4 linked regions of the Homo sapiens genome follow. The protein of the gene in region 4 purifies or fractionates together with the protein of the main gene of each other region. This does not show direct contact. Each region holds a gene or a part of one and is shown on either strand. Other genes may lie near its edges. The genes, in order: SAAL1, TBC1D9B, INTS1 and ALDH3A2.

Evidence for each region.
Region 1: the proteins of ALDH3A2 (region 4) and SAAL1 purify together in Homo sapiens (affinity purification with mass spectrometry; 3 studies listed by BioGRID and IntAct, with this or other methods). This does not show direct contact.
Region 2: the proteins of ALDH3A2 (region 4) and TBC1D9B purify together in Homo sapiens (affinity purification with mass spectrometry; 3 studies listed by BioGRID and IntAct, with this or other methods). This does not show direct contact.
Region 3: the proteins of ALDH3A2 (region 4) and INTS1 purify together in Homo sapiens (affinity purification with mass spectrometry; 3 studies listed by BioGRID and IntAct, with this or other methods). This does not show direct contact.

Annotation. Positions count from the first base shown.
Region 1 is NC_000011.10:18,095,795-18,103,742, forward strand, and holds part of SAAL1 (protein SAAL1), read right to left. Parts: intron 7,553-7,948; coding exon 7,439-7,552; intron 1,061-7,438; coding exon 977-1,060; intron 1-976. UniProt on the Homo sapiens protein: Plays a role in promoting the proliferation of synovial fibroblasts in response to pro-inflammatory stimuli.
Region 2 is NC_000005.10:179,904,509-179,913,082, forward strand, and holds the start of TBC1D9B (TBC1 domain family member 9B), read right to left. Parts: upstream 3,390-8,574; 5' UTR 3,314-3,389; coding exon 3,196-3,313; intron 305-3,195; coding exon 194-304; intron 1-193. UniProt on the Homo sapiens protein: May act as a GTPase-activating protein for Rab family protein(s).
Region 3 is NC_000007.14:1,468,940-1,473,500, forward strand, and holds the end of INTS1 (integrator complex subunit 1), read right to left. Parts: intron 4,246-4,561; coding exon 4,133-4,245; intron 3,448-4,132; coding exon 3,334-3,447; coding exon of another isoform or gene 3,304-3,333; intron 2,703-3,303; coding exon 2,632-2,702; intron 2,286-2,631; coding exon 2,194-2,285; intron 2,017-2,193; coding exon 1,907-2,016; intron 1,754-1,906; coding exon 1,638-1,753; 3' UTR 1,338-1,637; downstream 1-1,337. UniProt on the Homo sapiens protein: Component of the integrator complex, a multiprotein complex that terminates RNA polymerase II (Pol II) transcription in the promoter-proximal region of genes.
Region 4 is NC_000017.11:19,665,318-19,673,265, reverse strand, and holds part of ALDH3A2 (aldehyde dehydrogenase family 3 member A2), read right to left. Parts: intron 1,546-7,948; coding exon 1,310-1,545; intron 116-1,309; coding exon of another isoform or gene 32-115; exon of another isoform or gene 1-31.

The sequences.
Region 1 (7,948 bases), on a different chromosome or scaffold from region 4:
TTGGCAGTTTACTAACAGCAATGACTACTGAAAGCTTACTTACTTACTTGGGAAGGTGTGGAAGGAAAAGTACCACTGTGAATTAACAGATGCAAATACTGAGAGGGGACAGAAGGCACACAAAGGGAGGCACGGAGACAGCATGAGACAGGGAGTAGAAAGGTCTGGCTAAATCAGAAGGGTTACCTGGCTATCCAGATTTTATGCTGGAAAGATGAGTTAGGTTCAGAGAGTAGAGGTCTTAAGCAGCAGGCTGAGTTTAGAATGGTTTTCAAGCAATGGTGGATTTTGTCAGTAAAAAAGAGAAATCAACTGAAAAATGGGAGGCCCAGGCTCTGTTCCTTGTTCTGATACATACTAGCAGCATAACAGTGGTTATGCCTAACTCGTCTCCACAGCTGGTAAATGAAAGTGCTAATTTCCCTGGTCCGGCCTGAATCTAAAATTCTATGATTTTCATAATTTTAAATTATTAAATTATTAATAATTTAATATTTTAAATTATTACAGGCATTTAGCTCACGCTTATAATCCCAGCACTTTGGGAGGCCAAGGTGGGAGGATCACTTGAGGCCAGGAGTTCAAGACCAGCCTGGGCAACATAAGGAGACCTTTGTCTCCACAAAATAAAAATAAAAATTAGCTGGGTGTGGTGGCTTACACCTATACTCCCAGTTACTTGGGAGGCTGAGGTGGGAGGGTCCCTTGAGCCCAGGAGGTCAAGACTGCAGTGAGCCGTGATCACGCCACTGCACTCCAAGCCCTGGAGACATAGTGAGACCCTGTCTCAAAAATAAAATAAAATAAATTTAAATAGCAAATTACCTAGGACCTGGCAATGTTCAATTAACATCTACAGGCTGATTTGTTGATTTATGGTCAGTAAGAAAATCAAAGTGAGAAAAATAAAAGACTATCCAGCACTATCTGTTCTTATTGCTTCAAAGAAGAAGGCTTTAGAAATGTACATACTTACTCTTAATCGAGGACACTTGGACTTGGCCAGTACTCCCATGAATATATCAGGAGCATTAAATTCTTGGAGAAATAAAGCCACGTCCTGAAAAGAAAAATGATTATTAACTTGGATGTTGAATATTCCTCCCTAAACCCTAAAGCTCAGGCAACCATAAAATTCTATATTAAAATTAGAATTTTACGCCAGGCGCAGTGGCTGACACCTGTAATCCTAGCACATTGGGAGGCCAAGGCTGGCAGATTGCCTGAGCTCAGGAGTTCAAGACCAGCTGGGCAACACGGTGAAACCCTGTCTCTACTAAAAATACAAAAAAATTAGCCGGGCATGGCGGCATGCACCTGTAGTCCCAGCTACTCAGGAGGCTGAGGCAGGCGAATCGCTAGAACCCGGGAGGCAGAGGTTGCAGTGAGCTGAGATCACGCCACTGCACTCCAGCCTGGGTGACAGAGCGAGACTCTGTCTCCAAAAAAAATAAAAAAATAAAATAAAATTAGAATTTTAGACACAAGAAAAAAAAAACACAGGCTTAGGAACTGTGTCAACAGACAAAAGTGATGTTAGAGAGTCTTTATGGTAACTAGTCCCAGACAATGGAACAATTTCATAAACAAATCTAAACTACCTACAATACTCCAGAGGATTATCCCACTCTTTTCTGCCCGAATCTATTTACCTTAATAATTTTTCTGCCCACTAGGAATTCTCATTAAACACATTCAAACACATTTGGTGATTACCTATCAGGTATTAAACTAGAAGCGGGGGACAAGGGAAAAAAGCAACACGCTGGGCGCAGTGGTTCACACCTGTAATCCTAACACTTTGGGAGGCTGGTTAGAAGGCCGAGGTGGGTGGATTACTTGAGCCCAGCTTGGGCAAACATAGTGAAAACCCATATCCACAAAAAATACGAAAATTAGCCAGGTGTGGTGGCACATGCCTGCAGTCCCAGCTACTTGGGAGGTTGAGGTGGGAGGATCACTTGAGCCTGGGGAGCTCAAGGTTGCAGTGAGCCATGACTTTGCCACTGTACTCCAGCCTGGGCAACACAGCGAGAAAAAAAGGAAAAAAAAAAAAAAGGTAAAACTTGGCTGGGCGAGGTGGCTCACGCCTGTAATCCTAACACTTTGGGAGGCCAGGACAGGCGGATCACTTGAGCCCAGGAGTTCGAGACCAGCCTAGGCAAACATAGTGAAACGCCATCTCTACAAACAATACAAAAATTAGCTGGGCATGGTGGTGTACCATCTGTAGTCCCACCTACTCAGGAGGCTGAGGTGGAAGGATTGCTTGAACCCGTGAGGCAGAGGGTGCAGTGAGCTGAGATCTCGCCACTGCACTCTAGCCTGGGCGACAGAGTGAGACTTTGTCTCAAACAAAAACAAAATTCCTTCTTGTCCTCCAAGAGCTTAAAACACGGTAGGGGAAAGAAGTCAAGAACTGCTATTGGGTCCTGTCCAAAACCAGAATTTGTGTTTTCAAAATCATCAATAGAATAAAAATTCTGATCACAATGTAACTGTGGCAGCCTCATAACTTCTTCCTACAGAGTCTGCCACAGTGCCTAAAGGGGCGTAACACACAGGTGACATGTGAGTGGACATGTGGCCCCAAATGAGCCAAATCTCACCTAGGAATGTAAGACACAAAAGCTAAGTCAGTTTGCTTGGGGACCTGCAATGTAAAATATATAAATAAAATTAAGTCTCTGGCTGTCCACTGCTTCAGATTTTCACTAAATGTGAGGTGTGTATTTGAGAAGCCTTAACTTAAAATATAAGCTGCATGGCTTATGTGAAAATTAAGGGCCCTGGAACATCTCAAAGAGACAGGCAATTATTCTCCACAGCAAGTGAAACCAGTAACCTGCCAGACAACTGACTGAGAGAGACACACTCTACTTACTAAAGGACCATGGTCAGAGAAAATAGTATTTTCAAAGATACACTCTAAACTGAAAGTCATAATGGCAGATTCTCTTCACTGTAAGTGATCAAGCTGTCCTGTGGGCAATTCTTTGCCACATGCAGAAATTTTTAAATTTAATGGTAATTCCTGGAGTAGCACAAGGGTGGCCTAACAATATCAACACCAACAGTAATAAAATTAACATTCATTGAACAAGTATTAAATGCCAGGCACAGTGAAGTGGCTTGCATGCTATCTCATTTAATTCTCAAAACAACTCTATCAACTAGTTATCATTGTTAGCCCCATTACACTCATAAGCAAACTGAAGTTTAAAAAGTGTAGCAACCTGCCCAAGATTATACAGTCTCAGCAGAGCAAAGCTAGGATTTGAACCCATGAGTCTGATTTGAGCCTATGGTCTTGTTTTTTAAAAGAGATGGGGGTCTTGCTATCCTGTCCATACTGGAGCAGTGGCTATTCACAGATTCACAGGCATTATCATAGCTCACTGCAGCCTCCAACTACTGGGCTCAAGTGATCCTCCTGCCTCAGCCTCCCAAATAGCTGGGAATACAGGCAAGTACCCAGCGAGACTATGTTCTTAACCAGCACAACATGCTACCTCTCAGGTATTCATCTATTCATTCATTACTCCCCAAATATTTTCTGAAAAACCTAATAGGCACTGTTTTAGGTTCTGGGGATACATCAGTGAACAAGCTAAATAAGGGCTCAGTCCCATGGAATTTTCATTCTAAAGAAATGAACAAACAATAAATATAAAACAACTAAACTACACAATTTCTAAATGCTACAAAGAAAATAAGATATGTGCTAGAAACCAAGATAAAGCGGGCTACTTTAGACATGACATTGAAAAGAAGGCATTTCAGAAGGGGTGACATTATGCTTTGATGAGAAGGAATTTAAATCCATCAGAGGACACATGTAACAGAGTGAAGCAATTCTGTGGGAACACCAAAACAAGACAGGTTAATTCTGACTGGAGTGTCTGGGGTGGCATCACAGAGGAGGTGACATTGAAGCCGGGCCATAAACAATGAGAAGGATTTTGCCAGCTGGAAGCCATTCTAAGCAGAGCGGCATGAATAGTGCCCATGGACACGTGAAAGTGCAGGAAGTATCTGGAGGTCTCTGGTCCTCGCACACTGAATTCATGGTTACAGAACGATAGGCGACAAGACTGAGATATAAACTCACCAGACTTTGCGCCAGGGACCTCAATTGTCAGTGGAGAGCTCAGTTCTGAGTGGTGCCTCAAGGGCACCTCTTGTAAGGGAGCAAAAGGAGGCCAAAGAACATGACTTTGCCCTGCACCAATAACCTCCTTCAAACAGTAGCGCTGTTTTCTCAATTTTAAAACTGAGACTTTCACCCTAAGAGTTCATTTAAAACACAGGTTTTATTTCTTTTTAAAAAAATTTGTTTAACCATAATTTATCAATAATTGTAGAATAGAAAGTAGATCTGAACAATACTCTCAACCAACCTGATCTGACATTGAGAATAAGATATTCCACCCAGCAACAGCAGAACACACATGCTTTTTAAGTCAACATGGTAAATATTTCAGGTTTACTTAAAACCATATTCTGGGCTATAAAACAAATCTCAACACATTTAAAAGGATTCAGTGTTCACCAACCACAGCAAGAGAAAGATAACTGAAACATTCCCAAATATTTGAAACTTACCTATAAACCAAAGAAAAAGTAAAGAATATTAGAAAGTATTCTGAACTTCTGCGGGCATGGTGGCTCACGCCTGTAATCCCAGCACTTTGGGAGGCCGGGGCAGGGGGATCACTTGAGGCCAGGAGTTCAAGACCAGCCTGGCCAACATGGCAAAACCCCATCTCTACAAAAAATACAGAGCGAGACTCTGTCTCAAAAAAAATTGTAAACACAGCATATCAGAAATTGTGGAATACTGGTAAAGCATAAATATTTAGGGAAAATTCTATAGTGCTTGATGTCTATCTTTAAAAAGAAAAGATTTCAAACTATAAAGTATGTGGACAACTGATTTTTGACAAAGACACAAAAGCAATTAGTGGAGAAAGGATCGTCTTTTCAACAAATGAACTTGAACAATTAAATATCCATAAGCAAAAAAATAAACTTCATCCATCCTTGCACCATATACTATACAAAAATCAACTCAAAATGGATCACAGACTTATATGTAAAACCTAAAATTATAAAACTTTTAGAAGAAAATGTAAGAAAACAACACAATTAAAAAGCAGGCAGAAGATTCAAACAGGTACTTCACCAAAAAAGATACACAGAGTACAAATAAACACATGAAAAGATGCTCATCATTAGGAATTAAGGAAGTCCAAATTATAATCACAATGAGCTATCATTACATACTTATTAGCATGGCTAAAATTAAGAAGACTGACCATACTAAGTGTTGGTGAGGTTGAGGAGAAATTGGACCTGGAATTATGTCTCATACACTGCTTGTGGTTATGTAAAATGGTAAAAAACTGCTTAGGAAAACAAATTGAAAGTTTCTTAAAAAGTTAAGCATACACCTACCGTATGATCCAGCCATGCCACTTGATATATGGTCTGGCTCTGTGTCCCCTCCTAAATCTGACCTTGAATTGCAATCCCCATAATCCCCACGTATCAAGGGCAAGACTAGGTGGAGGTAAGTGAATCACGGGGGTGGTTTCCCCCATGCTGTTCTCATGATAATGAGTGAGTCTCATGAGATCTGATAGTTTTATAAGCGTCTGGCATTTCCCCTGCTCGCACTTCTCCTTCCTGCCACCGTGTGAATAAGGTGCCTGCTTCCCCTTCCCCTTCTGCCATGATTGTAAGTCTCCTGAGGCCTCCCCAGCCATACTGAACTGAGAGTCAATTAAACCTCTTTCCTTCATAAATTACCCAGTCTCAGGTATTTCCTTATAGCAGTATGAGAATGGACTAACACACCACTCTAGGTATTCACCCAAGGAAAAACAAAGTATATGTCCATACACACTTGTATACAAAAGTTCACAACAGCTTTATCTGTAATAAGCCTTAAACAACTCCAACATTCATCAACAGGTAAAAAATAAATTGTGGTATATACATATAATGGAATACCATTCAGCAATAAAAAAAAAAAAAAAAGCCACTGATATACACAACATGGATGAATCTCAAAATAATTATGCTGTATAAAAGAGCCAGACCAAAAAAAGCATATGAGCACATTCATATAAAACTCTAGAATACATACTAATCTGTAGTGACAGAAAGCAGATCAGTGGTTGCCTGGAGGGGATGGAGGAATGGAGAGGCAAGAGGAAGAGACTACCAAGGACCATAAAGAAACTTTCAGGGGTGATGGGTATGCGCTGTATCCTGATTACAGTGACAGCTTAATCTGCGTACACATCCGTCAAAGTTTATTGGCTGGGTGCGGTGACTCACTCCTATAATCCCAGCACTTTGGGAGGCCGAGGAGGATGGATCATTTGAGGTCAGCAGTTCAAGACCAGCCTCGCCAACAGGGTAAAACCCTGTCTCCACTAAAAATATAAAAATTCGCAGGGATTGGTGGCTCACACCTGTACTCCCAGCTACTCTGGACGCTATGGCAGGAGAATCACTTGAGCCCTCGAGGCGGAGATTGCAGTGAGCTGAGATCGCACCACTGTACTCCAGCCTAGGTGATAGAGACTCCATCTCAAAAAAAAAAAAAAAATCAATGTCAATGATACTTCAAAACAATATGCAGTTTTTTGGTGTTAATTATACCTCAATAAAGTTTTAAATAAAATGACTGAAACAATGAATAGCCATTGACAATTTTTAAGAAAATGAGTACAATTAAGTCTGTATTTCCGGAAAAAAAGGTAACACGGGTGGCAATGTAGAGGACAGAAGGGAGGTGAAAGAGACTAAAACAAGGATTTTAATCAGGAAGCTATTGCTAAAGTCCAGGTAATAAAACAAGAAAGATTACATAGGTCATTTAATGTCTTTTGGCCTCTATTTTCTTAACTGTAAAATAAGGGTACTACCTACATCACAGGGTTATTGTGAAGATCAAATAGAATACTATATATGAAAATGCTTTTGAGCTATAGAATAAAATACAGATATTAAAACACTATGATTAATACTGCAATTACAGACATATAATTATTTATTGTCCTTTCCTTCTAATATTATCATGGTATATCAGTGGTCTTCTAACTCCTAACCTGCTGTCAAATATATGGCCAGAGCTCTCTTTAGGTAGGTAAGTATCAGAACTTTCCCGGCCTACATGTGTATAGGAATACATTCATAAGAGCTACGTATTTAGTCCGAATCTGTTGAGAGCTCAAATCCTCCAGCCTCAAAGACAGAAGTTTAGCATTTATAGCCCCTGGGATCTCATTCCCTATATCATATATGGGTGTGATTACAGACAGGAGATAAAGCCTTTCCCCAGAGTGAAGGACTGAACCGTTTTTAAAACATTCATTCACCATCTCCTCACCCAACAGTCTTCAGAGTTTTGTTTCCAGCCTCATACCTCATCCATTGACATATCCCATACTCTGCAAATTTCATTCTCCATTTCTTCATCAAGCTCCGTCAGCTGCTCCTCATCATCTGAGCTAGATTTGGTGTTTTCAGGGCTAACAATCTTCAGAAACACAAAGAAAGAAAACATGAATAAAAGTTGTCTACAATACTAACCAGGTACCCAAATACAGCAGGTGATCAAATAACATTTCCTCGTAACGCTGATGAGAAAAAAATTTGATTCCTGGCCAGGGCCACTGTCTGTGTGGAGTTTGCATGTTCTCCCCAAGAGTGCATGAGTCTGTTCCAGGTACTTTAGTTTCCTCCTACATCCCCCAAATTTGCACATTAGCACAACGGGTATCTAAATGGTCCCAATCTGAGTGAGTGTGGGTGTGTGTGTACCTGTGATGGGATGGCATCCTGTCCAGGGCTGGTTTCTGCCTTGCACCTTGAACTGCTGGTACAGGCTCCAGCCACCCTCAACCCTGAACCAGAGCAAGTGGGTTGGGAAATG
Region 2 (8,574 bases), on a different chromosome or scaffold from region 4:
GCCACCGCACCGGGCCACGGAGCTGCCTTTCTAAGATGGAAGCGAAGGCTCCTCCACTTCCCTCTTGCAGCCTTGGGCTATGCTGTCAGCAGGGAATACCACCCAGACACGTGGGCTACACACCCCTTCCTCTCGGCAACGGCCCTTCCAGGGCAGGCCCTGCCCAGCACCCCTCACCACTCAGGGCACCTACCACACGCCACTGTCCAGTAGACCTGGGAGTCCTGGGTCTGGTGCAGGATGCGGTAAGGGGCCACGCGGGCACTGGAGTCCAGCACCACGTCCAGGGTGCCCACGAGAAGACCTGGGAACAGGGCAGAGAGACATAGAGGGTGAGGGGAGGGCCGGACTGAGGCCCCTGAAGGCTGAGTCTGGCCGGAGGCAGACAGGATGGTGACGCTACCCAAAGGGTCCAGCCCAACGAGGGAAACGTCCGGAATGACCCCTGCGGTCAAAGGCCTTCAGCCAGTGTCTGATCCCGATCAAAAACATCCCCTTCTACTTCTTCCTGGAAGCATCTGCTTCTTCTCCTGGCTCAGAAACACTTGCAGGCAGAGGCAGATACAAGTTTCATGGGGCCAGAGCTTAAACAATTCTGGGAAGCCCTCTTTACGTATACAAAACTAGACTACAAAACAAGTATTGCTTTAGACCGAGAAAGTACAGAGCTACACGTTAAAGTTAAAAAAGAACAATATCAGAAATATCACAAAATCCAGAAAACCAACACAATGTTTTCCTAACTGCCATGTGCGTCTCCTGAAATACGTCTTCCGGACAGTTCTGGTCCTGTACTCATCGCTTCTTCACACACAGGACAATGATTCTGCAACATTATTTTCCATATCAAGAACAGAAAGATAATGTCTCCCCTTTGCCATGACTCACTGATTTTTTATTACCGACAGTTTAAGGAAGTTTCTTTTAGCCTCAAAAAATCATAACTGAAGAAGTCGATCTTTAGAATTGTCAAATTTGGGAAAATATAAAGTTTTTTCATTTCTGAACTGAAACATTTGAGGGCATTTCAAGTTTTTCTTCTCATCACATATACCCCTTTGATAGATGACACACATTAAGCAGTCTGTGGCAACGCTATCTTTGCTTTTATATTTTAGGTAATGCTATCTTTGTCAGTGTCACTATTTCCTGACAAATCAGCAGGAAATATATAGCTTTTATCATTGTTTGATTCACTAATTGAATTATCGAGCAATCTAAAAACCTGTTTATTGTTTTTACTTGAAATTTTTTCTTCCTTTTAACGAAGTGCTGCTTTTGGCATGATCTGAAAATATTTTGTTACCATTTTTCCTGTTGATGTCAGAACAATTTTTATTGCTGTTATTCAACTTTAACACTTTTGTTTCATAGTCCATTAATACTTTTTTGAGATAGTCTCGCTCTGTCGCCCAAGGTGGAGTGCAATGGCGCCATCTCGGCTCACTGCAACCTTGACCTCCTGGGTTCAAGCGATTCTCGTGCCTCAGCCTCCCGAGTAGCTGGGATAACAGGCGCGTGCCACCATGCCTGGATAAATTTTATATTTTTAGTAGAGACGGGGTTTTGCCATGTTGGCCAAGCTAGCTATTCAGATTCTTTAATGAAAAGTCTAGGTTGGCATGTTTTTAATAGATGGCTTGGATAAAACCACATCCCTGTCTGCTCCTCTTCAGGGAGGACAGTACTCAGGAGGCCACGATGCCCATGATGGCACAGGGAAGGCCCTGTCAGAGGGCACAGCAGGACACACCAAACCTAGCAGTGGGGAGAGATTGGGAGAGGGTTCAAAGAAGGGTTCCCTTGGGGGGACCCTGGGAGCTCGGTCCCAGGGGACACGGAGAGTGAGGTGGAAAGGAGAAGAGCCCGCAGGAAGGAGGTGTACAGAGACCGGGCTGCACCTGCACCCGCCCGTTCAATGAGACGACCCACATAAGCCTGCCGAGCACAGCACAAGTGTTTCAAGTACACCAGCGAATATGACACACTGGCGCGCTGATGACACCCTGGCGCGCTGGCGGAAGAAAAGGTGCCGGTCCCTCGCTTTCTTCATCGGGCTTGCAGTAGCTTCGAGGTTAGCCACAGGGGCTGCCGACTGAACAGCTGGATCTAGGAGGCGGGTCCAGAACAGGAGCCCGAGATCCTTGAAGCCCACTGGGAGGGAACCCGAAGCTGAAGGGAACACTGAGTGTTTCTGGGAACAGAACAGTCTCTTCCACATGAAGAAACGTGGCCCAGGAGAAGCCTCCGTCTGCATCTGGCTATTAGCTGCTCACACTGAAAATCAGGATGATTCACAGAAAATGCTCTTGATAAACTGGACGACCTGGCAACACTGGGACCGCAATCCTGTAGGGCAACAGTCGGTGCCCCGAAGAGCACAGGCACTGAGCCCGAGCCAGCCGGGCTCCTGCAGTGCTGGGCGCAGGCCCTGGAGCATGAGGGGCCCCGGACACCACCTGCGGAGGGAGTGGCCTGTGGGCCTCCCCTGGATCCCACAGGCCGCACGACTCCAAGGGTGCCTGTCCAGCTTCATCCTGTGTGATGGTGGCACCCGGGCCCACAAAGGGCCACCTTGGCGAGCTTGCAGGAACACCCTGTGCCGCTACCCACAGCCTTGGGTGCGCAGCTCTGAGAGCAGCCAGGAGCAGGAAAGGTGGGGGAGGAGAAGCTGGGGGAATGGGGGTGCGGCCAGCTCCAGGGACCTCTGATCTTGCTAAAAGGGCGATACTTTGGTGAGATGGGCACGAAGAAGAGGGCAAAAGAAAACGTGCGCTGGCGTCACCTGGCCCCTTAGAGGCACCTGGGGAAACTGAGGTGGAGGATGAGGACAGGGCGGTCTCGCCAACTTTCGGCGGTGAGATCCCGGGAAGCTGCACGGCCCCCGGGGCTCGCGGGCGCCGAATCCGGGCAGAAGCCGCCGCCGGTCTCCACTTGGCCGCCCCAAGCCGACCTGAGGAGAGCCCGCCGAGGGCGCATTCGCCTCCCGCCAGCCCCTCGCCTCCCCGCCCCGGCCCCTCCGCGCCCGGCTCCCGGGTCCTGGCCTCGCGCCCCCGCCCCGCCGCGCGCTGGCGTGCGTGTCCGCCGCGACGCGCCGAGGCCGGGCCGGAACCGGACCCGCCCGCCGCCCGCCGCCAGCCCCGCCGCCAGCCCAGCCGCGGCGCCCACAGGCCCGGCCGCCCGCGCGCCTCTCACCCGTAAGGCCGCCGCCCCTGCCGTGGCCCCGGCGTCGCTGCAGCACGAAGAAGGGGTTGGCCCGCTCCGTCACCCACAGCGCATTGGCCACCAGCACCTCCTCCGGGCTCAGCCACATCGCGGAGCCGCTCGCACCGGGCCGAGGCCCGCGAGACGGAAGCGCCCGCCGCCGTCGGCGTCCCGGAGCGGAGCGTGCGGAGCGGAGCGTGCGGAGCGGGCCGGGGCGGGGCGGGGCCGGGCGGGCGGCGCCCCCTGGCGGGCGTGTGGCGCTCCCGCACGCGGCCCGAGTTCCGCGCCGCCCCCTCAGCCCCGGCCTCGGGCGCGCGCCAGCCTGGCCTCCTGGAGCGGTGCAGCCCACGGCCTCCGGCCTGGGTCCAGAACGGAACGGCCCAGTCCGCAGACAGGGGAGCCGCTGTGCAGAGCAGGGCTTCTGGCGTTTTGAAAGCTGTGCAGTGTGAGAGAAGGATGTCAAGAAGCAGAGTTTGGCGGCTTTTGGCTGGTTGCGCGTGCAACCCGGGGCGTGTTAGCACTGCAAAGGGCGCCTGGAAAGGGTTTGCAGTTCCTCCTAATTCTCAGCTTTCTTTTCTTTTTTTTTTTTCGACAGAGTCTTGCTGTGTCGCCCAGGCTGGAGTGCAGTGGCGCAATCTCAGCTCACTGCAACCTCTGCCTCCCGGGTTCAAGTGATTCTCCTGCCCCAGCCTCTTTAGCTGGGATTACAGGCTCCCGCCAACACGCCCGGCTAATTTTTTTGTATTTTTAGTAGAGACGGGGTTTCACCATGTTGGCCAGGCTGGTCTCGAACTCCTGACCTCGGGTGATCCGCCTACATTGGCCTCCCAAGTCCTGGGATTACAGGAGTGAACCATCGCGCCCGGCCAGTTCTCAGAATTCTGACACTGGGGCCGGGAGACTAGAAGAATCTTCCAGCGCAGGGCAGGTGCCAGGAGGCCCTGATACGGGCTGCATCCTTGGAAATCAGTGCTGCCCCTCCCCTGACAGACGGGTCACAGAGGCTGGCCGGCCCTGGGGATGGGGTCTGGACTGGCCCTGGGCCCAGTGGCGGCTTCTGCGCAAGTGTGAGGCTGGCTGCAGGCGAATGCGGGTCCCTGGTCTCCCAGTGTTGGCCTGCAGGGGCAGCGCCAGTCCACACACAGCCTTCTGCATGAGGGGGCTGTCAACTCCACCTGGGACAACGGGCCTGGGGCCTGTCCGGGGTCGACTGGGATGTGGGGTCACCCTGCTGGCTGGAACCCTCACCAGGGTCTGGCTAGAGGGCAAAGGGAAGGGGGCAGTTAAACCATCCTTGGAGCTGGACCTGACTTCCAGGTGGGTTTCTGTGATTGGCACTCAAGAATCTTGGTGCGATGGATGTAGGTACATGCAGTTGACACCCAGAGTGATCTGCAGTCTTCTTCAATGTTGCTGGATATAGGAATCAGCTTTCAAGATGCAGAGGCGGGCTTTCTTCAACACCTTGGAAGTCTGAACTAATATTGTCATTGTGCTCTCTAGAGGGAAAGAATTTGGAAGAACTGCACTTTTTAACACCCTGAGAGGAGGTAAAGAGTCGTCTTGTTCCTTAATCCCAGTGGTTCTCAAATTGGGTATACATTAGGATCACCTGGAAGGCTGATTCAAACAGGCTGCTGTAGTCCCAGCCACTTGGGAGGCTGAGGTGGTAGGATCACTTGAGGCCAGGAGTTCAAAATCGGCCAGGGCAATATAGCAAGACTCCATCTGAAAACAAAACAAAACAAAAAACAGCCACACAGGTTGCTGCCCCCTCCCTCCCAGGGTGTTTGCACTGCTAACTCGTTCCTAGGTGATGTTGATGCTGCTGACCTGGAGACCACTCCTCGAGAATGGTTTTTTATAAGAAGAAAAAGAACAAACATTTATCGATCACTTAGTATGTGCGTGCTAAGCTTACTTCTTTTTGATTTTCTGAGATATAAGTCACATTCCGTAACGTTCACTCTTTTAAAGTGCAAAACGTAGTGGTTTTTAGTATATTCACTAGGCTGGGCATCCATCATCACTAATTCCAGAACATTTTTATCAAGTCAAAAGAAACCCCTTACCCATTAGCTGCCATTCCCCACTTCCCCCCGGCTTTGCCCTGGCAACCATCAATCTATTTTGTCTCTATACATTTTTCCCATTCTAGCCATTTCTTCATATAAATGGAACCTTACAATATGTGGTCTTTTGTGTCTGTCTTCTTTCACTTCCCATCATGTGTTCGAGGTTCACCCACGTTGTAGCACGTATTGATGCTTCATTCCTCCTTATGGCTGAATAGTACCCCACGGTATGGATGCACCGCATTTTATTCATTTGGATGGACATTTGGATTGTTTACCCCTCGTCTATTATAAATAATGCTGCCATGAACATGTGTACAAGTCTTTGTGTGAATATGTGTTTTTAATTCTCTTGGGCATATATTGAGGAGTGGTATTGTTGGGTCATGTGGTACAGCTATGTTTAACTTTTTAAGCAGTGACCACACTGCGCTCCAAAGCAGCTGTAGCATTCCACATGCCCACCAGCTGGGTGTAAGAGTTCTAGGCAGGGCGCGGCGGCTCACGCCTGTAACCCCAGCACTTTGGGAGGCCGAGGTGGGCAGATCACAAGGTTAGGAGATCAAGACCATCCTGGCTAACACGGTGAAACCCCGTCTCTACTAAAAATACAAAAATTAGCCGGACGTGGTGGCATATGCTTGTCCCAGCTACTCGGGAGGCTGAGGCAGGAGAATTGCTTGAACCCGGGAGGTGGAGGTTGCAGTGAGCCGAGATCACGCCACTGCAACTTCAGCCTGGGCAGCAGAGTGAGACTCCGTCTCAAAAAAAAAAAAAAAAAAAAGAGTTCTAGTTTTTCCATATCTTGTCAACACTTGTTATTGTCTTTCTTTTTTTTTGATGCTCATTTCTAGAGGGTGGGAAATGGTATCTCGCTGTGGTTTGGATTTCCATTTCCCTGATGACTGATGATGGGCTTTTGGGTTATTTGTATATTTTATCTGGAGAAATGTCTATTTGGAGAAATGTCCTTTGCCCATTTAAAAAATTTTTTTATTTTTTTATTTTTGAGACGGAGTCTCACTCTGTCGCCCAGGCTGGAGTGCAGTGGCATGATCCTGGCTCACTGCAGCCTCTGCCTCCCAAGTTCAAGCGATTCTCCTGCCTCAGCCTCCCAAGTAGCTGGGAGTACAGGTGCGTGCCACCATGCCTGGCTAATTTTAGTATTTTTAGTAGAGAGGAGGTTTCACCATGTTAGCCAGGATGGTCTCGAAATCCTGACCTCAAGTGATCTGCCCGCCTCGGCCTCCCAAAGTGCTGGGATTACAGGCGTGAGCCACTGCACCCGGCCTCTGGCTCCAGTGCTTTTCCACACGTGTCAGACACGTGCTGCCTTTGCCCCCAGCATTCACTTCTCCCGTCTGTGCAGTGTCGTTTGTTTTTCTGCAGTGGGAACCGTGCCTTAGAACGCTCAGCTCTTGTCTGTCAGGTGAAGACACATGGACTCCTGGGCTGTGAAGGTGGAGCCCATGCCAGCTGAGGCCATCGGTGCATTCTATCTGTGATCACAGGGGCTGGCTGGTGATGGCCATGTGCCTCCAACCAAGTCAGTTGGGCCAGGGAAATACCGTCCTGACCTGGGCCACCTCCTGGGGACTGGCTCTTGTGTTGATGGAGCTACTGCCACCCTGAGCCTGGGGATGGGGTTCCCAATGAGGAGCAAAGTTGGCATGTGTCTTGGTGTCAGCATTTGAGGGTGAAATCACACCAAGCCTGACATAGGCACCCCTGGGCATTTTGGCTTTTGGGAGCCATGACATTCCCCTTTTGTGTTAGCCAGTTTTGGCTGGGTTTTCTGTCATTTGTAACCAAGAGAGTCCTCAGTGATACACGTCACCACCAACAATACTCCATGTGGTCAAATCAGCTTTTTCAATAGGTTTTTATTGAAATGGTTATATTAGCAAATTCTGCACATACGGGTGTACACTGTTGGCATATAGGTATATACCATACAATTTCACTACTTGATTATACTTACACCAACCATGCAGACCAAGGAGCTGTGCTGCCCAGAACATTTCAAAGGGTTGATGAGATCTGATTGTCAAGAACCAGCTCACACTCTACTTGTAGGTGTTTGTGTTCCAGACAAGAAAACTCCCCCGACAGGGAGGCCCGAAACTGAGCTAATCGTCAGTTTTGCTTCTTGAATATTGACTGTTCTTTCTGGCACAAGCTATCCAATGAATTAAATTAAAATTTTAATTAAAATTCAAGTGCATAGTTTCCTTTTCATCCCTCAAGGTGGAAGATAAATCATTTGCCACATTTAGGTATATCCCAAGCCTCCCCACCCCCACATTACCTGTGCTATAGTTAGAAAAATAGTTTTGTACGCCATCTTCTGAGATGTTGTGCATAGTGAGCAGGAACCTAGAGTACGGTGGGCTCTTTCAATGACCCAAATATGAAAGGGGCAACTTTAATATTTTATGAGTATAAAAGCTACGGAGGGTCCAAAACAACTGTGACATATGTGGCCTAGGGCTTGCACCAGCTCCTCCTCCTGTACAGGAACAGGATGCTTCCATCAGGTGAGAATGTTCTCCATACCTCAAATCTCATTTCCTAGCTTGGAGCCTTTTCCTGTTTTTGTAATCACACGGGACAAGTTTTCTTTTTAGACAGAGTTATTGCCTCTCTGCAGCAGATCTGGTCCCAAGCCCCAGTCAGGAGATCCCCTCCTGCAGCTGGCTCAGCAAGCCAGGCCCAGGCTGTCTGGAGAACGCCTGGAGACAGCACCCTCTCTGCTTCTCTCCAGGATGGCATGTGTCATCTCAGGCTGGGCACTCAGCAGAGGTGCCAGGACCTGGACCTGGGCCACACCTACTGGCCCAGTCCACAGAGCACAGCCAGCAATCCGCAGCCTTTCTGCTGAAGGAGCGCTTACTCGCCTGAAGGAAGAGAAATGGCCAGGACGGTATATTCTACCTAACCACCTCACCCCACCGTTTCTTTACAAACATCTTGGTTCAGTACCTCCCAGTCATTGGAGAAGTCCTTTAATATCACATAGTGTAAATATACTTGCACTTAATTGGAGATAAAGGCTGTTCCAAAAGCAAATTTGAATTCACTCTGTGTTGGGTTGAATTTGTAAACCACAGCTCAGAACCAGTCTGTGACGCTCCGCAGATGTCGGTGGCTATAGAGAGAGGTGGCTAGGGAAGGCGATGATCCGCGGATGGGTGGGGAACTGAGGAGGCCAAGTCAGCTTTGCCAGGCCACCATGTGCCGCCAGGAGCTGGGCAGCCTGAGGAGAGCAAAGATGGGCCGGGAGCCTCCACCTCAA
Region 3 (4,561 bases), on a different chromosome or scaffold from region 4:
GCCCCAGGGCTCAAATCTCGGCCCTGCCCCTTATCCGCGCAGAGGTAGGAGAGCCAACCACAGAGCAGGAAGGGCCTCACCCCACACCCCGGCCTGTTAGGCCTCCTCACTGCTGTCCCTGTCCCTAACCCTAACACACATTCAGACCCAGGGCAGAGGTGCCCGCACCAAGGGCCTGAAGGCAACGCACTAAGGGCAAGGGTGGGGGAGGGCGGCCGCGCACAGCTGGGATGGAGGCGGCTCAGCGGCCCATGGGCCTCCAAGTCACTCCCAGAGCAGCCTCCCAGTCCCCCGGAGCCACAGGAGCCAGCTGTGGACAGGCACGCCTGGTGACAGACCCGGCACTGGCTCACCCCACCCGGGACCTGGTCCCCGGCCCTGTGCAGCCTGGAAGAATCCGAGGGTGGGCAGGCGGGTGCAGGAGTGCCCAGGGGCCCGGGCAGGTGGTGCAGGTGTGCAGGCCAGGGGCTGGGCTGGGAGGCTGTGGGCCTGGAGCCCAGCTGCCCCCTTGCTGGGTGCTGTTGCGGGGCATCCCCCAAGGCCACAGCATCACTAGAACCTTGAGGCCTCGCGCCACCTGGGCTTGCAGGAGGGCCTGGGTCAGCTTCTTAGCCACAGCGGCTGGGGTGGAGGGCAGCCGGGGCCTGGCTGACCTGGGAGCACTCATGGGGAACCGGGAGAGCACGGGTCCCATCTGTGTGCTGGAAAGACCCCGGTGCAGCGAGGACAGAGGGGTGGGCGGCTCTAACCCCAACCTGGCTGGGAGGGAGGAGAGTGCACTGCGGGCCAGCAAACAGGGCCCCATGCCAAGCTCCGCCCCGCATGCACTAGGACCCTCCCAGACCCTCCCCTGGGAGCTGGTGCCTGCAAAGGCAGGACGAGCAGCACCACCGGCTACTCGGACTCTTCTGGAATGGGACCCCAACTCAGCTCCCACAGAGGGACGCCCACAGTTGAGGCTCTCAGGGCCTTGTTGATCCTTTTAGTGCAGGAGAGAGAGACCAGTCAGCTGGGCCAGTCCCCCACGCAGCCTGACAAGGCCGGACTCACTCAACAGAGGCCGACCCCGTGGGCAGAGGACTTGAGGCCCGGCAGGGCCCAGGGCCGGCACTCGACAGGGAGACCATGACGTGGGGCGGGGGCGGCCAAGTGGGCAGCATCCCCCGACCCTCAACACCTGCGGGAACTGCTGGCCCAAGGGAGAGCCCAGCCTGGCCCTGGTCTCCACCACCCCGGACCCTGCTCAACTCCCTGCACTGTGGGGCTGGGAAGCCAAGGCCAGGGTCCTTGAGGCTCTCACTGGCCAGAGGGCGACATGGGACACCAGAGAGCACACAGACAGTTCAGGTCGTTTCATTCAAAACCAGCCCAGGCCATGCCCGGGGGGATCCGCCGCTCCGCGGCAGGGCTGTGGCCCAGAAGGTGAATGAGGGCTTGCTGGACGGCCCCTGATGCCAGCGGCCGGCCCGGAGCCACCCCAGGGCTCGGAGTATTGCTCCTGGGCCTGCCTGGCCTCAGGGCTCGGCGCCCTCACCTCCTCGGACAGACCAGCAACGCCCACGCTTCCTGGGCTTTGCCTCGAGGATCCCCGGGGACGGGACGGGCCGGGGCTTGGAGGGGGGTCGGCTGCCACAGGCTCACATCACGGCCTCCATATGCAGGATCCTCAGGGCCTCGGAGATCTGCGCGCTGGGGTCCATCTGGCCGTACATGCCCACCAGGAAGGCCCGGTGGAGCAGCACAGCCGCGTGCTCTGTGGGGGAAACGGGGCCCTGCACGTCACGCTGGCCACAACATCCTGGCCGCAGTGACCAGACCTCGGGACTCCCAAGAGCCAGCCCTCGGGGGACGCACCTCCGGCCTCCCCGAGGGCTGCCAGGGCCCTGGGCGGGGGGCCAGTCCTCACCTTGGCACAGGAGAGCGTACTCAGGCAGGTTCCGGAGGGCCGTCTGCACCACCTCAAAGTCCTGGCTGCCCAGGCAGTACATGAACGTGGGCAGGAAAGCGGCTGCAATGCTGAAAGACCCACACACTTCAGTGGGAACCTCCACCCTGTGCCCACGCCAGACCCCCACCCGACAGGGCGAGCTGAGCCGCCTGGAAGCCTGGTCTGGCCACCAGGCGGGTCAAGCGGTGACCTGGGTTAGCAGGGCCCAGCGGTGGCGGCGGGACAGAGGCCGGCGGTGGCCTCACCTGGGGCTGTTCTGCATGGAGCGCAGGGCCAGGCTGAAGGCGAGGTTGCGGCAACACTCCTCGGCCGAGCTCATCAGCCGCTGCAGGTTGGTCTGACCGGGGGAAAGGTGGGAGGTGTGTGACCAAGGGGTCCAGCCCCCATCAAGGCCCCTTCACCTCTTGGTCTCGTGATGGTTGGCGGCAACGGCAGGGACCCTAGGCCCCTATCCAGAAGGCAGGACGCACGTGCCACTGGCCGGTCCCAGCCCGGGGCTGAAGGCAGGCCTGCTCTGGCGGCGGCTTGACTGTGAACACCTGGGCTGGGGCCCCCACCCGAAGCCCAGCCTCAGAGGACTCCCTGGGGCTCAGCGCGGGCACGCCATGTTGGGGTGGTGGCCCTGCTGGGGTTCCCCAAGGGAGTGGCTCCTCCCAGCTCTCCCTCAGCCCCATCCAGCTCACCGAGAAGAAGCTCAGGATCTCGGGTCTCCGCCGGGACATCTCGTCTATGTCACTCAGAACCTCCAGCAGATCTGACACAGAGAGAGGGCCAGACCAGAACTGAAGGGCCCAGGCAGACCTCTGCCCACCCCACCCCAGCCACCCAGAGGGGGCAAGGCCCCGAGCACCACAGGACAGAAAGCACTGGAAAGCATGAGCCCAGTGACGCCCCAGGCAGTCACCTGCCCCCAAGCTCCACAAATACCCGGCCCTGCCCCTACTAGTGGCCTCCAAGGAGAGGGGTTGACCCCTCACGGCAGCCCCATATCCAGGGTGCTCTTAGCACCAAGTGTCCCCACGGCCCGACTCCATCCGGGCCGCTCAGCCTTGGCTGTCCTCTGACAGCGGCCACCGGTACTGCCCACCCGCTGGTCTTGCCCACCCGCCTGACCTCTTCCTGCTGTACCCCCACCACCTTAGGGGGCTCCCCTGCTTTTTGCTGTGCCTGAAGCAGAGCAGCCACCTCCAGCTCCCCTGGGCCCCTGAGTTTCTAAGGCCCTCTCTGGGGGTGCTCCCCACTGTGAGGAACAGCCCACCCACCCACAGCCCAGCGTGGGCCAGGCTCACGCCAAAGTCAGTGCCCAAATGGCTACTGGCTGCTGCCCGCAGCCCCATGGGACCCAGGGCGCTGACCTGGCGTGGGTGAAGCAGGGCCTGACTCACCCTCCACCGTTTGGCCCCGGGAAAGCCGTTTCATGTAGGGGGCCATCTCGGCCGCGGTCAGAGGGGTGAACAGGGAGACGCTGACCAGGGGCAAGGAGCCGGCTGAGCTCTCCTCTGGAAGACAGTGGCAGTGCTGCAGGAGGGCGGGAGCGGCAGGACGTGCCACACTGAGGCACCAGGACCTGCCCTCCCGAGAGCACGGCGGCCACTGCCCAGGCTCCCAAGGTGCCTGCACACAGCAGCGCTCCACAAATGGGGTGGAGCCAGGAGCCGGGAGCTGCCTTTGGATCCGGCGCATGCACCTCTGCGAGTCTCTCCCTGCTGGGTTTCTCGCAATGTGGGCCAGGACCCACTGGGCACAAGACGGGATGGCCCCTTGGGACCCGGGCCTGGCGCTCTTCCGGCGGCACAGGAGAGACGTGCTGCGGTGCCGTGTCACCTCAGGCAGGGAAAAACCAAGGACAAGCCTTGCCCAGTAGGACCAGGGGAGGCTTCCTGGGGAGGGACACCTCGGACAAGCACTGGTGGATGGTGGATGTGCCAGGGACGGGGGGGTGGGGAGGGCCATTTGCCGGGGCGGGGCGATGTGCCGGGGGGCAGGTGTGCTGATGCTCTGTCAGGCACCAGTCAGTGCTTCGTCCCCTTGAGGTGGGTCAGGGGCCAGCCAGCAAGGTCCCAGGCTCACACAGCCCCCATCGGGACGCCTCGGACGGCCCAGGGCTGGCTGTGCGCTGGGAAAACCAGGCCCTGTAGGACTGTTCCGCAGCTGCTTCCAGCAGCCCCTGGCAGCCCCACTCACCCTCGCCCTCTTCGTCCAGGCCTCGGTCGGTCCTGTCGTCCCTGCTGGGCAGGCTGAGCCCTGCAAGGAGGGATTTCAGCATCACCAGGTCACTGTTGTCGAAGGACAGGTCGCTGGGGAGAGAAGATGCTTTCACCTGGGAGGAAGACGCTGGCAGGAGGAAGGCTGGGTCAGGGGTCAAACTAGGGTGGCATGGGAGCGTGTGGACACAGGCATGCAGGAGAGGCCAGGACGCTCAGAGGGAGGGCCGGGCGGGGAAGCCACATGTGCGTGGAACGGGACAGAGAGCCAGAGAGCTGCAGGGGTGGGTTCAGACGGCTTCGGCACAGGGTGGGGCGGCCTCTGCGCCCTGGGATGAGCACCACGCTCAGCAGCCCTCCCCGGCCTCAGGAGCAGCATATCTGACACGACACGGCCTTCCCAGGAACA
Region 4 (7,948 bases):
ACAGACAGGGCTGGGTTTTGAAATCTGGTGTTCATCTCTGCTTACTGGACCAACGCAGTCTGTGAACTACCAGAAAAATCAACAGGGCCTTTCTCCTCAGCACAGCTTGGTATTTCTGAGAAAACCCAAATGATTTCAAATGCAACTGGTATCTCCAATTCCACTAAGGCTGGGATACTGTAAGATGAGCCAAACCCCTTTCAAATTTTTGTTGTTGTTGTTGTTGAGATGGAGTCTCGCTCTATTGCCCAGGCTGGAGTGCAGTGGCATGATCTTGGCTCACTGCAACCTCCACCTCCCGGGTTCAAGTGATTCTCCTCCCTCAGCCTCCCGAGTAGCTGGGACTACAGGTGCGTGCCACCATGCCTGGCTAATTTTTGTATTTTTAGTAGAGACAGGGTTTCACCATATTGGTCAGGCTGGTCTTGAACTCCTGACCTCGTGATTCCCCTGCCTCAGCCTCCCGAAGTGCTAGGATTACAGGTGTGAGCCACTGCGCCGGCCCCCTTTCAAATTTTAAACAAAACATAAACACAACTATTACCATTGCCTTTTCCAAGCCCATTCTTCACTGATATGGTCAATATTTTCAATGTTATATCCTCAGTTGAACGGCTGAGGGCACCACAGACACAATTGCCTTCCTCATTCCATCTTAACTTTAATTACGGATTTCCTCTTTCATCTCAAAATACGCAAACTGCTTTGAGAAGGCAGCTATCATGAGGGCCTCTTTGCAAGCCCATCCCTATAATGACTAATCACCAAAGATAAACTTTATCAGGTAGTGAACTTTGGAGGAAAAAAACTCAAGCCTAATAAAATATCCCTCACCAAAGCTGTTGTACCAGAGTTCTTGCCTTCACCTCTGTGGTAAGCTGATTTCATGCACATTCAAGAACAAAGCTGTAAGTGACAAGGAAAGTCCAATACCAAAAGGATCAAAGGGCTAACCCTTTGATCAGACAGCTCAGAATTCTGCAATCAAGTTCTACGCTGTTTTAATCTCTTAGACCAGAGATCAGCAAACTTTTCTGTAATAATTTAGGCTCTGAGGGCCATTCAGCCTCTGTTGCAACTACTCAGCTCTGTCACTGTCCCATGAAAGCAGCTGTGGATGATTAAACAAGTGGGTGTGGCTGTGTTCCAATAACTTCAGTGACAAAAACGGGTAGCTGGCCAGCAGGCTGTGGTTCACTGACCCTGTCTTAGACTCTACAAGTTAATGTAGAGTCCTGCTAGAATATGCATCTGGCAGCCATCAGGCCAGGACCAGACTGAATGGCACTCATGGGTTATAGGGACTCACCTTGACAAGCACAGCGGCTACAATACCCAGGAAAGTGAGCAACAGGAGACCGAGTTTTTCTTTGTTGAACCGTTTCAAGAGAAAAAATTTTCCCCAATCCACCTTTGACTGGCTGTTGGGAGGATATCTGAGTTTGTTAGCACCTTCTCTCTTTAAACTTTTTAATAAACAGGGACGCTGATGAGAAAAAGTATCAAAACTATGTTTTCCGTGATAAGCTCCCATCCCACTGGAACCTGAAATAAAGGGAACAGACAAAACAAGCTTCACTGTAGATGATGCAAGCTACTTCTGTCTAACAACGACCGGGAAAGCTCACATGCACTCCCTGCTGCCTGGGAACCCCACTGAACATCTCTGCCAGCTGAAGTATCTCTTTTCAGGAAGTCCTTACCAACTTCCCTGGAAAAGTCAATTTCCCTGTCAAACAGGATGCTTTCCATGAGCAAGACAAGGACTTGCACCTCTTCTAGAGCTGTGGCTCTCATTTATGCCAGGGACTGTGCTAAGAGTTAAATCATTCTCTTAAGATAATTCTCACCACAATCCCACTTGGTGAATTATCAGCAGCCTCATTTCCAGAGAGGGAAAGGGAGCTTACAGGGTCAGTTAACCTGCCCAGGGTCACACGGCTGCTAAGTGGCAAAGCCAGAACCCGAACCTGGATCAGACTCTAAATGCTATATGTGCTCTCTTCCCACCATCCCATGTGGCTTCATTCATCCATGGCCCCACACACCCACTTGCTTTCTCAAAGCCTGTGGAAAGTAAGACAGGGCAACAAGGTTGCACAGCTGGATGATAATAAGCAAGTGTAAATCTCTGCCCTCCACAAAGCCATGCTCTGTGACAGTTTCATTTCTCTAATTCATTGTGTGTACAACAGACTGACAGGCACAAAGCGGAGCAGTGTGAGCTGGGCAGAGGGAATGGCATGTGTGATATAAGACACAGGTGACCAGAGGCCAGGGAGCAGTTTACCAAGGCCAGGCTGCAGGAAGGAATCATTCATGAAGCAGGCCTGGTGTGAGAAGAGACCCAAGGACAAGACCATGAGAAACCCTAACTCTGAGGGAGGGTAAAGAATGAGGGAGGGGGCCGGGTGCGGTGGCTCACGCCTGTAATCCCAGCACTTTGGGAGGCCAAGGCGGGTGGATCACAAGGTCAAGAGATCAAGACCATCCTGGCCAACATCGTTAAATCCCGTCTCTACTAAAAATACAAAAATTAGTTGGACGTGGTGGCGCACGCCTGTAGTCCCAGCTACCTGGGAGGCTGAGGTAGGAGAATTGCTTGAACCTGGGAGGCGGAGGTTGCAGTGAGCTGAGATCGCGCCACTGCACTCCAGCCTGGGCGACAGAGCGAGACTCCGTCTCAAAAAAAAAAAAAAAAAGAATAAGGGAGGGGCGAGCCAAAGACATAACCAAGGTAGTAAGAAACTGGGAAAAATTTGGGAGGCTGATGCAGGAGGATTGCTTGAGCCCAGGAGTTCAAAGTTGCAGTGAGCTATGATTGTGCCACACTGCATTCCAGCCTGGTCAACAGAGTGAGACCCTGTCTCAAAAAATAAATAAAAAGCAAAAAACTGACATGAAGGAAATTACAAAGTTTTGTTGAAAGATATAAAAGGGCTATATAAATGAAGAGATGATATAACATATTCCCATTAAGACTCCACATTTTAAAGATATAAATTCTTCCCAAAATAATTTAAGTTTAAATCAATTTTAATAAAAATCCTAGGGGATTTCGGAAGGTTTTGTTTGTTTGTTTTAAGTAGGAGGAGGTAGTGATTCCAAAGATCATCTGGAAAAATAAATTTAGATAAGAACAAGCAAGAAAACATCGAAAAACAGTAATAATGAGGAGCTTTTACTTTTAGGTATTGAAATAGTACTGTGTCCTAAAGAGCAAACTACTGGATTGGTTGAATATGTGGGTTTTGGAGCCAGACAACTTTGGCTCATTTCTTGGCTTTACTACTTATTAGTTGTCTGTCTCTAAAATGCGTGCATTTGACCGGGCACGGTGGCTCACACCTGTAATCCCAGCACGTTGGGAGGCTGAGGTGGGAGGATTGCTTGAGCCCAGGAATTCAAGACCAGCCTGGGCAACACAGTGAGACCCCGCCTCTATACAAAAAAAATTTTTTTAATTAGCCAGGCATGGTGGTGCACCCTTGTAATCCCAGCTATTCAGGAGGCTGAGGCGGGAAGATTGTTTGAGCCTAAGAGGTTGAGGCTGCAATGAGCCGTGATTGCACCACTGTACTCTGGCTTGGGTGACAGAGTGAGACCCTATCTCAAACAAGAAAAAAAAGAAAAGAAAAGGCGTGGATTCAACCGCAGTACCTGGCATACAATAAGCACTTACTAAATGTCACTTATAAAGCTAACTGTACAACTACTGTAATTGAAACTGTGGTACTGGCCCACGGAAAAAACAAACCAGAAAGATAATGCAACCAATGAGAAAACCCTAAGAATGACCCAAACGTGTTTTTATTGAGTACTGATGGTATAAGGATGATTATTTCAAAAAATGGTGCCAGCATAGTTTACTCTTTGGGAAAAAAAAGGTAAATTATTACATCATGCAGCGTATGGCATTCTAAAGTGAACTCCAGGGTGTTTTTTTTGTTTGTTTGTTTTTTTGAGATGGAGTCTCGCTCTGTTGCCCAGGCTGGAGTGCAGTGGCATGATCTTGGCTCACTGCAGCCTCCGCCTCCCAGGTTCAAGCGATTCTTCTGCCTCAGCCTCCCAAGTAGCTGGGACTACATGTGCATGCCACAATGCCCAGCTAATTTTTTTTTTTGTATTTTTTGTGGAGATGAGTTTTCACCATGTTGGCCAGGCTGGTCTCAAGATTCTGACCTCGGGTGATCTACCTGCCTCGGCCTCCCAAAGTGCTGGGATTATAGGTGTGAGCCACCATGCTTGGCCAACTCCATGGTTAAATGGAAAGAAAAGAAAAGAAAAAAGAAAAGAAAAGAAGAAAAGGAGGGAGGGAGGGAAGGAAACTACAGATAATATTTAATTATTTATTTATTTTATTCTTATTTTTTTGAGACAGAGTCTCGCTCTGTTGCCCAAGCTGGAGGTACAGTGGTGCACTCTCTGCTCACTGCAACCTCCGCCTCCAGGGTTCAAGTGATTCTACTGCCTCAGCCTCCTAAGTAGCTGGGATTACAGGTGGTGCCGCCACACCCAGCTAATTTTTTGTATTTTTAGTAGAGACGGGGTTTCACCATGTTAGCCAGGTGCCTTGGCCTCCCCAAGTGCTGGGATTACAGGTGTGTGCAACCGCACCCAGCCTACAGATGATATTTATATAATAATGAAATAGGGAAAGCTTTTCTAAGCCTACTTTCCAAATCGGAAACCAAAAAACAAAAAGCCACACAGGCTTAGGCCAGATGTGGTGGCTCATGCCTGTAATCCCAGCACTTTGGGAGGCTAAGGCAGGTGGATCACCTGAGATCAGGAGTTGAGGACCAGCCTGGCCAACATGGTGAGACCCCATCTCTACTAAAACTACAAAAATTAGGTAGGAGTGGTGTCGGGTGCCTGTAATCCCAGCTACTTGGGAGGTTGGGGCAGGAGAATTGCTTGAAGCCAGGAGTCAGAGGTTGCAATGAACCGAGGTCGCGCCATTGCACTCCACCCTGGGTGACAGAGTGAGACTCTGTCTCTAAATAAATAAACGCTTCAAATCATAGATAAAATTAAAAGAAAAATTAAAATCTGGAAAGGGATATGTATTACAGATAGGACTGAGGATTTTCTTACTTATAAAAAAGGCTATTTATATACCAATAATAAGGAAGATGTGAACACAGCAAAAATATCAAAGGACATAAATAGAAAATTCATGAGAGTGGTAAAAAAAATTCAAACTCACTAATAATCAAAGGAGTACAAATTGAAATGAGACCCTTTTCTGTCTAGAAATTTAATAATGGAATAATCCAGAATTGGGGATATAAGGAAGTAAACACTCATATACTGATCATGGGAATATAAAGTGGCAGAAATCTGCAAAGACACTTGAAATATCTATCAAAAGTCTTAAAGAGAAGCATTTCTAAAGAAAAACCTAGGCTGGGTGCGATGGCTCACACCTGTAATCCCAGCACTTTGGGAGGCCAAGGCAAGTGGATCTCTTGAGCCCAGGAGTTTGAGACCAGGCTGGCTAACATGGCAAAACCGTGTCTCTACTAAAAATACAAAAATTAGCTGGGCCTGGTGGCACACACCTGTAGTTCCAGCTACTTGGGAGGCTGAGCCAGGAGAATTGCTAGAACCCAGGAGTTGGAGGTTGCAATGAGCTGAGATCACACCACTGCACTCCAGCTTAGGTGACAGGGAGTCTCAGTCTCGATAAAAAGAAAAAAAAAAGAAAAATCTAAACTATATGCCAAAATATTAAAAAGTTTAACTGTTTAGACTTTTTGCCACTGTGTCTATATTACTTTGAGAATTAGAAGAAAAAAGCATTTTTTTCAATTTGGAAAATTGTATAAGCCCTTTTAACAGAGTAATTACACTTGTAGACATTTTTCCTAAAGAAATAATCAGAGATTGCATAAAGATACATTATATAAGAATCGTAATACCAAAAAAATTGAAATCACAAAAATCTAATACTGGGAATTGGTTACATAAATATGCCACATTCATATGATGGAAAAGTATGCAGCTACTAAAATTATGACATGCAAGAATATTGACATGGAAAAGTGTCACACTATTCTGTCACATACAGGGTACAGAACAATATATAGTATGATACCTTTTTGAATAGAATATTCAGATGACCGTGTATATGTGTGTGCATATGTGTGCAAGACATATACCAGTTATCTTTACATAGTGGGGTTATGGGTAATATAAATGTTTATTCTTTGGGCTCTTCTATCTTTTCCAAGTTTTCTTAAAAAGCCTGTATTCTTTTTACATTTGGGGGTCAAGGCTTGTTTTTATTTTTTATTTTTATTTTTTTACAGCATGGCCACTATAATAATGTATTATATGCCTGAAATTTGCTAAGAGAGTAAACCTGTTTTTTTCTTTTGCATCTTCTTTTTGTATTTTTAATTTTTGTGGGTATATAATAGGTTGCTTGTTTTATTTTATTATTTTTATTTATTTATTTATTTATTTATTTATTTATTTATTTTGAGATCGGAGTCTCGCTCTGTTTGCCAGGTTTGAGTGCAGTGGCGCAATCTCAGCTCACTGCAACCTCCACCTCCCTGGTTCAAGCAATTCTCCTGCCTCAGCCTCCCTGGTAGCTGGGACTACAGGCACGCACCACCACACCCAGCTAACATTTGTATTTTTAGTAGAGATGGGGTTTCACCATGTTGGCCAGGCTGGTCTGGAACTCCTGACCTCAAGTGATCCACCCACCTCGGCCTCCCAAAGTGCTGGGATTACAGGCATGAGCCACTGCGCCCAGCCTTGTTTTGTTTTAAATAAGATGGTATAGTCAATGATGCCACAGGCTATCTTGTCAAGTAGGACAGGGACTGAACCCAAGTCACTTAGATTTGCAATTAGAGGGCAGTGGAGACACCATATGGAACAATTACCGAGTTGATTACTGCACTAGCACAGTGGATGCCAGGATCCTATGTGGTGAGCTGAGGAACAGAGACAACAGAGTCCAATCTTTTAAGCATTTGGGCTACAAAACTATTACTTACTCCAGCCAAAATCCCAGGAGTCATCCTCTCTCATTCACCCCCTCCTCCAACATTCACTCCATCAGCCAATCCTGCTGCTTGATCCCAAAAATACCCCCTTCCCTTTCCACTATCTCCCCTGCTACCACCCTCTACAAGCCACCACCATTTCCAATTTGGATCTGGCAATACCTACCAATTGGCCTCTTCCCGCCTGTCCCTCACTCATGTCAGTCACTGTGCTGGGTGCTGGCAATATGTTTACCTCCTAGACAAGGACCTGTGGCTATATAGGTCAAGGCTCCTTGGTCATAGGACAAGGTTTCCTTAACCAGGAACAGATGGTCCTGCCAAACTGGGCCATCGCATCCCATGGAGCAACTGACTTAGGACGGTATTACAAAGGGAGAGGATAGAACAGGGCTTTAAGACAGTGGCTTTTCTGGTTGGGTTTTTGTTATGAGAATGTTTACATATCGGCTATTTTGTAATAGCTCTAGTAGAGAGTAGAAAAGCCCACCTAGCCTAGGTCCCAAAGGAGAAATAAAAAGCTGAGTCAGTCATCTCACATGTGGGAGAGGCAGGCAGGTCATGTTCTAAAGGGAAAAGCAAGGATCAGGCTATGTCCACAAAGCTTCACTTGGAATGAATTTCTTTCTGCCCATCCTCTCTAGAACAGGGGGAGTCCCGTTTTACTCAAATCACAAAACAATTCAAGGAGAGGCTGCTCCTCCCAACAAAGGGCTGGGGAACAATGCAGGTAAGAACTGAGCAGAAAACAAAGGCACATTAGAAAACCCCTCTACCTTCTGTCCCTGGTATTCCGAACCTTTCATTTGCTACTTCATTAAACACACACACCACACACACACACACACACACACACACACACACGAAGAGAGATCTTCTTAATTAATTTGAGACCTGATTCTTGGTTCCCAAATCTCCTAAAT